Linked DNA regions of Homo sapiens. The main gene of each other region encodes a partner of the protein of the gene in region 2 in a complex. Each region holds a gene or a part of one and is shown on either strand. Other genes may lie near its edges.

The links. Proteins that work in one complex are often made in the same cells at the same time.
Region 1: the proteins of MTOR (region 2) and DEPTOR are in contact, whole or in part, in a cryo-EM structure (PDB 7PEC), measured with the Homo sapiens proteins. Residues at the interface, in NP_001373429.1 of Homo sapiens: Met304, Gly305, Phe306, His1494, Cys1498, Trp1501, Gln1525, Asp1527, Ser1528, Glu1530, Glu1531, Cys1534, Met1535, Ile1536, Arg1538, Arg1547, Gln1554, Leu1556, Leu1559, Gln1562, Cys1563, Lys1566, Arg1683, Leu1685, Asp1686, His1687, Lys1710, Ile1711, Phe1714, Gln1715; in NP_073620.2 of Homo sapiens: Arg54, His56, Leu57, Lys58, Thr59, Tyr60, Pro61, Val101, Arg116, Lys119, Asp121, Gly122, Thr123, Phe124, Lys131, Ala132, Arg135, Arg138, Lys142, Glu177, Gly178, Glu179, Glu185, Cys304, Asn305, Lys307, Gly335, Asp336, Ala337, Val338.

What each region holds. Positions count from the first base shown.
Region 1 is NC_000008.11:119,869,681-119,876,725, reverse strand, and holds the start of DEPTOR (DEP domain-containing mTOR-interacting protein), read right to left. Parts: upstream 3,005-7,045; 5' UTR 2,880-3,004; coding exon 2,758-2,879; intron 1-2,757. UniProt on the Homo sapiens protein: Negative regulator of the mTORC1 and mTORC2 complexes: inhibits the protein kinase activity of MTOR, thereby inactivating both complexes. DEPTOR inhibits mTORC1 and mTORC2 to induce autophagy.
Region 2 is NC_000001.11:11,231,533-11,238,557, forward strand, and holds part of MTOR (serine/threonine-protein kinase mTOR), read right to left. Parts: coding exon 6,870-7,025; intron 6,517-6,869; coding exon 6,311-6,516; intron 6,228-6,310; exon of another isoform or gene 6,204-6,227; intron 2,734-6,203; coding exon 2,611-2,733; intron 1,956-2,610; coding exon 1,866-1,955; intron 1,782-1,865; exon of another isoform or gene 1,378-1,781; intron 997-1,377; coding exon 904-996; intron 1-903. UniProt on the Homo sapiens protein: Serine/threonine protein kinase which is a central regulator of cellular metabolism, growth and survival in response to hormones, growth factors, nutrients, energy and stress signals.

The DNA of each region.
Region 1 (7,045 bases), on a different chromosome or scaffold from region 2:
ACCCTAAGCGCAACTCATCTAATCCTCATAGTAACACTATGAGGTAAATTCCATTATTACCCATCCTTCTTCTTCTTTTTTTTTTTTTGAGATGGAGGCTCACTCTGTTGCCCAGGCTGGAGTGCAGTGGCACTGTCTTGGCTCACTGCAACCTCTGCCTCCCAGGTTCAAGCAATCCTCTCACCTCAGCCTCCCAAGTAGCTAGGATTACAAGCATGCACCACCACACCCGGCTAATTCTTGTATTTTTAGTAGAGATGAGGTTTCACCATGTTGGTCAGGCTGGTCTTGAACTCCAGACCTCAAGGGATCCGCCTGCCTTGGTCTCCCAAAGGGCCAGGATTACGGGCATAATCACTTGTCCAAGGTCCCACACTAGTAAGTAGCAAAGCCAAGATTCAGTCTAGCTTAAAGTCTTCCTTGAAACAACTTAATGCTGACACTTGCCTACATAATGGTGGAGCAGTCATTCAAACCCAGGTCTAATTCCTGCATGACAAGGATGGCTCTCAAAACTGCTGCAGTGCAGAGAGGCGCTAGAAAAGTGGGGAATAACAAGTGCTCTGGGGACTGCAAGGAAGAGGCATTTAAACTGCATCTTGAAGGAAAAAGTACTTGCTGGACAAAAAGAGCCATCATGCAATTTAATATTTGTAAAATAAATGAAAAATAAGTAACCCTATCCAACAGAAGACTTTTAAAAAGATGGCCCAGTAATGAAGAGCAGAGAAATTAAACTTTCTTTCCCACAGTAGGCTTTAAAGGGACTGAAGCCTGTTATCACTCGCCTGCTACAGCTTGGGCTTCTAAAGCCTACAAACTCTCCTTACAATTCCCCCATTTTACCTGTCCCAAAACTGGACAAGTCTTACAGGTTAGTTCAGGTTCTGCACCTTATCAACCAAATTGTTTTGCCTATCCACCCTGTGGTGCCAAACCTGTACACTCTTTTGTCCTCAATACCTTCCTCCACAACTCACTATTCCATTCTTGATCTTAAAGATGCCTTTTTCACTATTCCCCTGCACCCCTCGTCCCAGCCTCTCTTTGCTTTTACCTGGACTGACCCTGACACCCATCAGTCCCAGCAGCTTACCTGGGCTGTACTGCCGCAAGTCTTCAGGAACAGCCCTCATTACTTCAGCCAAGCCCTTTCTCATGATTTACTTTCTTTCTACCCCTCTGCTTCTCACCTTATTCAATATATTGATGACCTTCTACTTTGTAGCCTCTCCTTTGAATCTTCTCAGCAAGACACCCTCCTGCTCCTTCAACATTTATTCTCCAAGGGATATCAGGTCTCTTCTTCCTTACTCTACTCTTTACAACAGGGCTTTATGAAGTCACCCCCGCCTTCTTGGACTGCACCTCACAAACTTACACCACTATCCATCATCTACCCAACTCCTATAAAACAACCCCTTCCCCATCTCCCTTTGCTGACTCCGTTTTTAGACTCAGTCCACCTGCACCCAGGTGATTAAAAAGCTTTATTGCTCACACAAAACTTGTTCGGTGGTCTCTTCACACGGGCACCGCGTGACAGGTTTCATTAGAAAGTACTTTTGATGAAGGAAAAAAAGTTTTTATTCCCTTTAATTCTGACCACGTATTTTTAAAAATCAACAAAGAATCGATAGGTGCAATTTGCCTTTTGTAACATTAAAAATCAGTTAATTCTGACTTCCAATATTGGTCTCCTTCAGAGACCTTTGCAAGACACTCTTTCAGGTCCTGAAACACAGACATTTAGAAACCAAAACAAGCTGGGGAATTCAGGCTAAGAACTAGAAGTAACAGGGGCCCGCGTACAAGTTGTGGCTCAAACGCTGCAGAGCTGGGTTTTCTTTTTCCTGGCAAACTGATTTATAACCACACGAAGGGCAGCTGCAGAACCAGTTAGACCATAAGTACTATTCCCAAACAGCCCTAGAGGAAGGACCATACAGGGATGGGAATGGCAAGGGGGATTCTGGGGGTCGTCCTTGTTCCCAAGTTCCGTGAGACGCCGCAAGTCTTAATTCTTGCAGGAGCCAGGGTCCCCATGGATCCTGCTGCCCAAAACGTGCGAGCCCGGGGAGTTGGCACAGCCTCAAGGCAGCCCGACAAGGTGCCTCCACGCCCCCTTGCGGACCCAAATGATTGAGGACGATGTGCCAATTAACTGATAGGTGCAGGGTTTCAGAAATGCTCTCTCAGTTTAACCTCACAAAAAGCCCTTGAATCAGCCCTGTTTTACAGATGTAAAACACCGAGGCTCAGGGGAGTGAAGGAAGACTTGTCAGCAAAAAGGAAAACCTAGTGAAGACTATCGTTGGTCTTGCTCCTTTTATCAAGGAGTAGAGGGGCTGGGGTCGCCTCGGGACCCCACAGCGACCCCTCTTGCTCTCTTCGCGGATGAGGCGCAGGCTGTCAGCCGGGAGGCCTGGCGGCGTCCAGGTACACGGGAAGACGGACAGCGCGGTGGGTGGCAGGGACTTTGCCCGGCACAGGACTGCAGCAGCCAGGCTAGGGCGCAGCGCGCACCACCCGCTCGTCGGCTTCTGCCAGGCAGCCCCGCTTGGCGAGCGAGTCCTCAGGGACCGAGGCTGCAGCAGCTAAGCGCGGGCGCACCGAGGACCATCCACGCGCCCGCAGCCGTTCCGGCGCCCCACGCGAGTCGCAAGCCACGAGCCAGGGAGCGCGTGCGCGCAGGACTGCAGCGGGCACGCGTTGGCAGTGCCATCGTGAGCTCACCCGCTGTGTCTCTTGCCTTACCGTAGCTGTTCCCCGGTGACCAAGACCTCAGCCATGCGCTCCAGCTCCCTTTGCTGCGCCCCGCCACTCCCGCTGGTGCTGCTGTCACTGCCAGCACTGCCAGTGCTGCCGCCCTCCTCCATGGTTTTAGGGCCGTGCGGCTACCACTGGCTCCGCTGTCCGCCGAGGGTTTGGGTGCTCGGATCAGTCTGCCCTCACAGACGCTTCCCGCGCCATCTTTGTTCGGGGCAGCTCCGCTGCTCTGACTGGATTGGCTGGAGAGGGAATCCCTATGGGTAGGCAGACGCGCTGGGCTAGTCCGGCCCCAGAAACTTGAGCTTGGGGGCGTGGCTAGAGCCCCTCATGGTCGGGGGGCGGGGCCGATGGAGGAAAATATAAACATCTGGGCGGGGCGCTGCTACTGAGCTGTGTGTGCTGCTGGAGGCTGAATTTGGTGAGCTCTCTTTACCCACAAAGCTCATGCTGTAGAATCCTGGGGACAGGCCTGGAGGTTATTAGTGTGAAGGCGTTTTTATTGTACGTTCCACACCCCAAGTTGCCAGAGAGCAAAACATAATTCAACAATCTGGCCAAATGGTCAACAGTGAAGGTTATACATGTCATTGAAGGGCATGGAGAAATTAAACATTCTTCTCTCCCCAACCTCTCTCTCCAAAGACGACTTGTTTGCCTTATGTTGTAATCAATAAGGAACGCCGGCCTAGGAATCAGGCTGACCTGGGATCCAGCTCCGCTCCTGTGATGTCCTATTTAAATGTGTTTAATCCTCCCTTACAAAATAAAAATAATTGCGGCTACCACTTTTGACATCTGCTGCATTAAAGATACTTCAGGTATGGTATTACCTCGTTTAATTATTACAATAATTCATAAAATAGGTATTGGTGTTCGTTTTGCATTAGAATGCAGGCTTGGAGAGGTGAAGTTACTTGTCTAAGGCAAGCAAATAATAAGTATAAGAAGAGCCGGGCACCGTGGCTCATGCCTGTAATCCCAGCACTTTGGGAGGCCGAGGCGGGCAGATCACCTGAGGTCAGGAGTTCCAGACCAGCCTGACCAACATGAAGAAACCCCGTCTCTACTAAAAATACAAAATTAGCCGGGCGTGGTGGTGCATGCCTGTAATCCTAGCTACTTCGGAGGCTGAGGCAGGAGAATCGCTCGAACCCGGGAGGCGGAGGTTGCTGTAAGCCGAGTTCGGGTGAGCGGAGTTAGTGCCATTGCATTCCAGCCTGGGCAACAAGAGCGAGACTCCGTCTCAAATCATCATAATAATAATAAGAAGAAATCTAACCGAGGCAATTCTGGCTTCAAAGTTATGCTTTGAAAAGACTGAAAGACTGCCTCTTAAAATGGGGATACAATGGTATTGTCTATCCGTAAAAGATTATGAAAAGAAATTTGATTAGTACCAAATAAATGTTCTGATTTTCTGTTTCATGCAGAGTCGGAGTTGGTCTGCAGGAAGGCGAAGTAATGTTTATGGCAGTATTCATGTGTGTTGAGCATTTATTCTGTGCTTTACATTGTGCCAAACACTTTATCCTCACAAAACCCTGGAGTTTGGTATTATTTTCAACTTACAAATGAGAAAGCTTAAGTATAGAAAGATGAAGTAATCTGCCTAGAAAGTTAGGTAGCCCTTAAACCCTGGCCATACTCAGCCCCACTCCAGAAAGAGAATAGTTGCCCAACTCCCTTGAACATCCGGGAGCAGACCAGCTCTGAATCTGCATGAGACAGATGTTAGGTGACTCTTTTGCCAAAAGAAATTATTTAAGTTTCTTAATTTTTTAAATAGGCCACAATAGACATGTAGACCAAGGCAGACATAGTTCTAGGTGACTGTGATTCTAAGAGCCTTATTCTGCATAAAATACATAAATCATTCAACAGAAGTCCCAGAGTTAATGAGATTAAAAGGTGTCTGTTGCTCATGTTTTAATCTTATAACTACTAAATAGAATATCAAGAGTTTGCACGGGCTTCTCAGTCAAACATGCAATTTCTATCTCAATTCTGTCGTTTGCTAATTTTGCAACCTTATGCTAGTTATTTCTCTTGGCCTCCCTTTCCTATCGATAAAACAGGAATAATAATTTCTACTTCATAGGGATGTTGCGTGGCTTAAATGAAATAATGTAATCCCAGTTCTTTGGGAAGTTAGGGTGGGAGGACTGCTTGAGGCCAAGAGTTCAATGCCAGCCTGGGCAACATAGCAAGACCCTGTCTCTACAAAAAAAAAACAAAATTAATTACCCAGGTATGGTTGTGCATACCTGTAGTCTCAGCTACTTGAGAGGCTGAGGTGGAAGGATCACTTGAGCCCAGGAATTCAAGGTTACAGTGAGCTATGATTGCACCACCGCACTCCAGTGTGTGTATCAGAGCAAGACCCTGACACTTAAAAAAAAGAAAAAATAAATAACATTAAAATTTCTATTATGTAAAGTTTCCAAGATCCATGTCAGTAACACAAATTTGTAACTTTAAGATAAAAAAGCACCTTAACATAAAGAAAAGAAAAGAAAATTCGAGTTAGGAAAATACCTGATGCTATTGTTCCAGTGACAGTGAGAGAGCATGATTTATTTTTCTTGCCTGATAAGAGGTGTGTGTAGGGGGCGGTGTGTGTATAGGTAGGTATATTTGAACAGGAAATGGGAACTGGTTTGCTGTTATTGTTTTAACCTTTTGACATATGACACACACCATGCTCCACTGGGTAAGAAGACAGATCCTTTTTCCTAACTTAGGGAAAAATTGGTGAGCCACATCCTGAGGACATGTCCATGACTGTGAGCCCAGGAGCAACTGGTTCCAGATAAACTGTAATTTTTTAGATATTGATCAAGGAGAAAAGGGCACTCATATGGCAACTAATTCAGCATAAATATTTCAGAAAAACAGAATTCTGACAAACCTTGGTTTGATTCTTGGCCATGTTTGGGCAAGCTCCTTATCGTCTCTGAATTTGCTGTCCCTCTTTTGTAAAATTTAGATAATAACACCAATCTCATTGGGTTATTGGGAGGATTAAATAAAATTTACTGAAAGCACTTATTACAGGTGGGAACTATTAAGTGTGAGCTTTCTCTTCTAGCTCTCCACACTTTTCTCTTCTAGCTCTCCACACTTACCTCTTTCATGCCTTCTGTCTGTTTTGGTGCTTTGGGGCCAGTGCTTCTCAAAGGTTTGGCGGGGAAGATCCACCTGTGTGTGTGTGTGTATGCTTTCAACCCATTGAAGCCTGATACTTTGATGAAATACAATAATACAAATGAAGCCAGGTGCAGTGGCTCACGTCTATCATCCCAGAACTTTTGGAGGGTGAGGTGGGTGGATCACTTGAGGCCAGGAGTTGAAGACCAGCCTGGCCAACATGGCGAAACCCTGTCTCTACTAAAAATACAAAAATTAGCCGGGTGTGTTGGCAGGTGCCTGTAATCCCAGCTACTTGGGAGGCTGAGGTGGGAGAATTGCTTGAACCTGGGAGGCGGAGGCTGCAGTGAGCCAAGATCGTGCCCAGTTAGCAAACCACACTTGGAGTAGCACTGGTGTGATAAACACTTCCTAAAGGTCAGCAGCAATATAAAAAGGAGATGAACTTGAATTGATAAAATGCATGAAAGAATACTGTCAGCTATGAAGATTAATATGTTAGCTGTCATGATTATTGTTGCCTTTTAATATGCATTGGTATTATTCTTGCCTGATTTTAATTAATTAATTAATTAATTATTTTTTGAGACAGAGTCTCCTCTATCAGCCAGGCTGGAGTGCAGTGGCATGATCTTGGCTCACTGCAGCTTCTGCCTCCCGGGTTCCAGCAATTCTCCTGCCTCAGCCTTCTGGGTGGCTGGGATTACAGGCATGTGCCACCAGGCCTGGCTAATTTTTTTGTATTTTTAGTAGAGACAGGGATCTCACCATGTTGGTCAGGCTGGTCTTGAACTCCTGACCTCAGGTGACCTTCCCACCAGCCTCCCAAAGTGCTAGGATTATAGGCATGAGCCACTGTGCCGGGCCATCCTGCCTGATTTTAAAGGCTAACTGAAATGCCACCTTCTCTGGGCTATTTTCCTGCACTTCTCCAAGCAGTTTATTGCTATTTATCGCCCAAGGGGTTCACCTTGCCCACTGCCTAGAAAGAGCCGATTCATCAAGACAGGGGAATTGCAATAGAGAAAGAGTAATTCACGCAGAGTCGGCTGTGCTGGAGACCAGAGGTTTTTTGTTGTTGCTGTTTGTTTGTTTGTTTTTAATTATACTTTAAGTTCTGGAATAC
Region 2 (7,025 bases):
TGTAAGAAGAAAAGAGGTTTCCAGTAAAGACACTAACCATGAGCAGAAATCCCAAAAGGGCATAAAACCAAGGTTGATCAAGCACACAACCCTGCAACAATCACTGGATCAAGAGACAAAGAAAATTCCCACCTTTCTCAAAGAAAACACATCATTCTTCCATATCCCAAATGATTAACAGGAGATTCAAAAGGAAATTAAGATTTTTTGTTGTTGTTGAGACAGGGTCTCACTGGAGACTGGAATGCAGTGGTGTGATAACAGTTCACTGCAGCCTTAATCTCCTGGAATCGAGTGATCTTCCCATCTTAGCCTCCAAGTAGCTGGGACTACAGGCACATGCCACCATGCCCAGCTATTTTTTTTTTTTAGTAGAGACAAAGTCTCATCATGCCCAGGTTGCTCTCGCTCTGGAGCTCAAGCAATCTTCCTGCCTCAGCCTCCCAAAGTGCTAGGATTACAAGTGTGAGCTGCCATGCCCAGAAATAAATTAAGACTGTTCTTAATTTTAGTCTAGTCATCTAATAGCCTCAAATTGGGAAAGCAGAACCAGGGCTGGGCAAGGATGAGCTAAACTTCTGTTCCTTCATAGGCAGTGGCCAAGGCTTTCTTTTTCCCTCTGAGAGCTACGGCTCTGACAATTGACCTGCATTTTCTTTTGTATAGACAAAATGGCACTAGTCAGCCCCGATAATTACTGAAACTGACTCTGGGTCAGGACAACAGGTAATTCTGGTTTCAAATCTTTCTAACTTTTACTCATTCAACAAATATTTTTGAGCACCTACTATGTGTCACACTCTGTTCTAGGCACTGGGTGAGGACACTAAGGTGAATAAAGAGAAGCAAAGTCCCTGGACTCATGGGGTCTGTCTTGCTCAATCAGGAAGCAGTAATACTCACCTGCCTTTTGGCCAACAAAGAGGAATCCTGGAGCATGTCCATGATGATAATAAAAAGTTCATCAACCCATTTCCTCATTTCCAGGCCACTAACCTGCAAAATGAAAAAGAGGGTGGCAGAAAGGGTTAGAAATTCTGGCATTAGAAAGTATTTTGGAGGCCGGGCACGGTGGCTCATGCCTGTAATCCCAGCACTTTGGGAGGCTGAGGAGGGCAGATCACCTGGCATCAGGAGCTCCAGACCAGCCTAGCCAACATGGTAAAACCCCATCTCTACTAAAAATACAAGAATTAGCCAGGTGTGGTGGCACACACCTGTAATCCCGGCTACTTGGGAGGGTGAGGCACGAGAATCACTTGAACCCAGGAGATGGAGGTTGCAGTGAGCCAAGATCACACCACTGCACTCCAGCCTGGACAAAGTGAAACTGTCTCAAAAACAAATAAATAAAATAAAAAATTTTTTTTAAAAAAGCCCTCTCTTCCTTTCTCCACCATCATGGTGTGTGCCTGACTCTGATTCTTGCCATTCTTCTCACAAGACTTTCAGAATTAAGCAATTCCTGGCCAAGAAACAAAAGTAAAATCGTCCCATTCCCCAGTGGATTCGGATGAAAACTGGTAATAAAACCAGGTACAACTCCAAAAAAAGACACTGGAGAAGAACCAAGCAGGGTCTATAAGGAATTGCACATGAGATGGCACACACATTTATGCTGTCTGAAGGTCACAATGATATTACCATATCAAGCTGAAAATGTCACCACTATCTGGAGAGTTGGACATGTTTTATTGAGAATATATTATTTCTCTCTGAATCTGTTATGAATGCATTGTTGGCTGGGTTCCGCAATAAATATGTGAGACCTTTCATTTAAAAAAAAAAATAGTATTTTGACTTCCTTAGAGGTTAGTTTCTTTTCCACCCTATCTCCGCTATGGAAAAAGTAGCTGCCCCTTTACCTGTGCCAATTCTCCTATTGTTGCCAGGACATTATTGATCACACCTGGGTTTGGATCAGGGTCTGGATCTTTCAGTTTCAAAATTAATGCCTAGAGAAAGAAGTTATGAGAAAATGAATGCAGATTAGACTCTACTAGAAACCTTTCTTTTATATAAGTAAAATTCACCCAAGAGACCATCTCAGTCATAAAGAAATTCCTTCTAGGCTTTATGAATCCAAGATTTCTCTGGAATGTAAATTCTCAAACTTTTCTCCATATGAAGTCTAAGTCTGACATGTGAGAGAGCTGGGAAGCACCATAATGTGAAAGTATTTCTCATGTCTCCTCTAAACCGAGTCTCAGTGATTGTTCATCCAGATTAACATACATTATAAAGGACTTCACGTGACTCTAATGTGTTGAGATTTGAAGGTTGTTTCAGATTTTCAAGCTCATTTTTTCCTCATTTTGGGCGAGCTATTTTATGCTACTATCTACCTACTTCTCCTTTCCAAACATCTGCGATGATGTGCCTGAAGCATTAACTCTTACCTCTTGTAAGGACAGCACTTTCCTGCAACTGATAAGATTCTTGGTATTCTTTAACTGAAAGTGCTTGATATGGCCCTTTGGTCTCCAAGCGTGAGAGCAAAGAAATCACCTACTTTGTTCAGTGTACTAGTGAACACTGAAACACTCCCATCTCCCCATATGAGCTGATGACAACGCACAGAGAAAGCACCAGCCTCTCGGTTTGTGTTACCTTCAGAATAGGCTCCATGTAGGGGCGGATGAGTCGGGGGGCATTGGAGACCAGGTGCCCCAGCATGCGGGCACTCTGCTCTTTGATTCTTCCAATCCCACTGTGCTCCAACTCTGTCAAAATCTGTAGGGAAGAAAGGCTCATATGTTCTCTATGGCAGAAGACATTCTAGAGAGAGACTGTGTCCAACAGAAAAAGTGGCAGGGAACTGGGGGAAAAACCCAGACCTCCACGACAGATGAAGTAGCTGCTAGATACTCAATGAGCAACAGACTTTTCTGCAACAGGCAGAACAGCCTTAGATACAGCTGTGACAGGAAGAAAAACTATTCGAAAACCTGCTCCCTTTCCTTTTATCACAGCACTCCAATGTCCCATGGCCCTCTCTAAAGCAGAGCTTTTAACCATGTAGCACAGCCAGAGAAGACTGAGAAAACCAACAGGGAGAGCTGTGAGTAGGGTTCTATAAAAATGAGGAAAGAAGGTAGGGCCCCTTGGGAGAAAAATCTTTGTCCAGACAGCAAATTACTGAAGACTACAAATAATGGCAAAGGAATCAAAGAACAGTTAGAACAGCTATGATGCCAAGAGAAGTGCTGATACTCTGTAGCTGTTTGGGGCATATCTAGATAAACCTCAATAGGTGGGGATCACACTGGCAGGATCCCCCGAAGCCTTACTGACTGGAGATAACACATTGGTTCTAGCTGACATCCTTAGGACACCAGCAAATCAGCATATCTTGCTCATGGTGACATAGACAGCATAATATAGACAGATTTCTGGATAAAGCTGCCAGAAGGAAATCGATGAGCAGTGACAAAAGCAGATGTCACAGAGCTCAGGTTAACTCAGCTACCCAGAGGAGTCTACAATTTAACATTACATTTTGTCTTAGGTTACTGACTTAATAACCCGATTTTTCTGGATTCCCCTGGCAGCCTGTTTTCCCCAGTCATAGCAGACCACAGGGAAAAGAAATGAAGGGGATACTGAGAATAGACCTGCAGCACCAAGAAGACATGGCTGACTGCAAGGAAATGTGCCTCACGGAGCAGAGCCCAACTATCTGCAGCAGTGCGGGGCCAATCCAAAGAACCCCAGGTTCACTTAGAGCCCGAGAGCCTCACTGCATCCTAATAACAATAACCAATGCCCACCCTGATGACCAAGACCGCAAGAAAGGCCAAAGTCGGCCAGGCACGGTGGCTCATGCCTGTAATCCCAGCACTTTAGGAGGCTGAGGCAGGTGGACTGCTCGAGCCCAAGAGGCAGAGGTTGCAGTGAGACGAGATCCCACCATTGCACTCTAACCTTGGTGACAGAGTGAGATTCTGTCTCAAAACAAAACAAAACACCAAAGCCTTTACCAAGGCATGAAAATGTACACCTCAATTTGGAAAAATCTATATCAAAGTTTAAAAACAAAAAAGAGTAATTTTAACATTTCAAGGGCTAAATTCAGTACATAAATTCATTCAAAGGAGCTTCACACTCTGCAATATTGAAAAAATGAAATGGCCTGATAGCTTAATATCAGCTTTAAGAAGATTAGAGCCAGCCGGGCGAGGTGGCTCACACCTGTAATCCCAGCACTTTGGGAGGCCGAAGCGGGCAGACCATGAGGTCAAGAGATTGAGACCAGCCTGGCCAACATGGAGAAACTCCATCTCTACTAAAAATACAAAAATTAGCTGGGCGTGGTGGCGGGCGCCTGTAGTCCCAGCTACTCAGGAGGCCAAGGCAGGAGAATCGCTTGAACCTGGGAGGTGGAGGTTGCAGTGAGCCAAGATCACACTACTGCACTCCAGCCTGGCGACAGAGCGAGACTGTGTCTCAAAAAAAAAAAAGAAAGAAGATTGCAGCCACGCCTGGCTTGTTGACTGCTATATTCCCAGTGCCCAGCAGTACCTGGAACATAGCATGTGGTCAAAAAGTCTGCTGACAGAATGAACATATTGATATTCTCATTAGGAGGTATTTCTTATTTTTTCCTTTTTTTTTTTTTTTTTGAGATAGGGTCTCACTCTGTCACCCAGGCTGGAGTGCAGTGGCACAATCACGGCTCACTGCATCCACAACTTACCAGGCTCAAGTGATCCTCCCACCTCAGCCTCCTGAGTAGCTAGGACTACAGGTATGCACCACTACACCCAGCTAACTTTCGTATATTTTGTAGAGACGTGGTTTGTCATGTTCCCCAGGCTGGTCTTGTCAAACTCTTGGGCTCCTGTGATCCGCCTGCCTTGGCCTCCCAATGTGCTGGGATAACAGACATGAGACACTGCACTCAGCCGTTTAGGAGATATTTCTACGCCAAATTAATTTAGCATGATTTGAGCTGGCAGGCTCAACAGTGATTTCACGTTTTTTTTTTTTTTTTTGAGACAGAGTCTCGCTCTGTCGCCAGGCTGGAGTGCAGTGGCGCGCTCTCGGCTCACTGCAACCTTCACCTCCTGGGTTCAAGCAATTCTCCCTGCACCAGCCTCCAGAGTAGCTGGTATTACAGACGCCTGCCAACATGCCTGGCTATTTTTTTTTTATTTTTAGTAGAGATGGGGTTTCACCATGTTGGCCAGGCTGGTCTTGAACTCCTGACCCCAGGTGATCTGGCCACCTCGGCCTCCCAAAGTGCTGGGATTACAGGCATGAGCCACCACGCCCGGCCTTCAACAATGATTTCTATTCCTTCCTATAACTGAGGAATGTTTTTAAGACTTAAAATGGCAGGCACTTCTAACGCAGGCCGGCAGTTAAATAAATCATTACGCTAAAAATAGAAGTGCCAACATAAGTACAACTTCCTAATTTGTTGACTGATGATATAATTTACAGCCACTTTATAACAAATTGTGAACAAACATTTCTCTAGAGTGAGTTACATATATTAATGATTTTCTATGTTTAAGTTCCTTATATGTTATAAAAAGTGTTTACTTCAAAACAAACCATGAAGGAGGATCAGGAAGCAAACAGTGAGCAATGGGGACAGGAAATGACTGGGTGAGCAACATAGAGACCCACAAGAGGCAGGTGGAAATAACTTCACCAGGCAGGACTGGTGTATTGGCAGGACTCCATGTATTGCTCACCAGGAGGCCACAGATCTTACTCAGTAGGTGAAGACAAAAACTGAGGAGCCATGTCTCCAGAGCAATTCTACCTTACGCTACAGACCAAGCAGCTGAGCTTGGCATTCTCATATTATTTAAGAACGAAAGCCAGGATCACAGACTGGAGCAATGACTATTAGAACAAATAGTGGAAACGGTCTCACACTGGTTATTTTTGTGAAGAACAACGGCCTCCGTGCTTGACCTGGCACCAGCAAGAAAAGCAGGAGAGCTGAAGGATAGGGAGGCGCTGGGAAGTCTGACACCATCTGCAGCAGATCAACCCAGCAAGCAAAGAGGGCCAAGAAATGGGATCACTGGTGACTTGCCAGGAAAAAGAAAGAGCTGCATGAGAGGACTCTGAACCACCTTAGAGTCATATTGACAAAGGGCTCATGAGGTGATGAGCACTGGAACTGCCATTATAAAGCCAGGGAAACATTTGGACCTTTGCAGACAAATGCGGCTTTTACCAGGTACCTCAATCTTTCTCCCCCATCCTTGTCCTCAACTCCGCTTCCTCAAGCAGTTCTCACAGCGAGAGTCCTGTCTTCCCTGCCTGTGGGTCTGGCCATCACCTCGGTTACCTGGATGAGCATCTTGCGCAGGAAAGGCATGACAAAGGCAGGGTTCATGCTACTGAGTCGGCCCACAGTGCAGATGGCCAGCTCCCGGATCTCAAACACCTGGTCATTCAGAGCCACAAACAAGGCCTGCAAGTTCTCCGCCTGGGCCAGGTGTGCATCAAAGCGCTCGTCCAGGGACGCCAAGACACAGTAGCGAATGTCAGGGTCTGCAAGAGCAATGGAGCCTTTGAACATTTCCTCATGATCCCATCACTCCAGCCCTTCCCAGCTTCTACCTCCACTGCCATCAGCGTAGTGGGAAGATTCCAGATGCTTTTTCTCATCTAACCTCTGTCATTCTTTTCTCTACTCACAAGAGTAAAAGACAAAAGAATTAAAGGTAGATTATCTTACACCAAAGGCTACAGTAGCCATGCCTAACACGCCTTGGCAGAGAAATAGCTGAATATCAGCTTTTTGAGCCGAAGAACTCTAGAGAGGCCATGTAATGAAACTGGCTACTCCCAATTGTCCTAAGCTCCTTAACTCCCCTAGATTCCTTCTGTCTGGCAAGCCTTACCAGGATCTGTTATCCCAACTACGAGCAGTTTGCTAAGCACATCTGCCACCACTTGCACTGCGGTCTGGCTAACCACATGAGCATGGCCACTGATGAGGTGGATGGAGGGTGTGAGCAGGCGGGAGCAGGTGCGGGCAGCCTCCATGCGGATCTCCT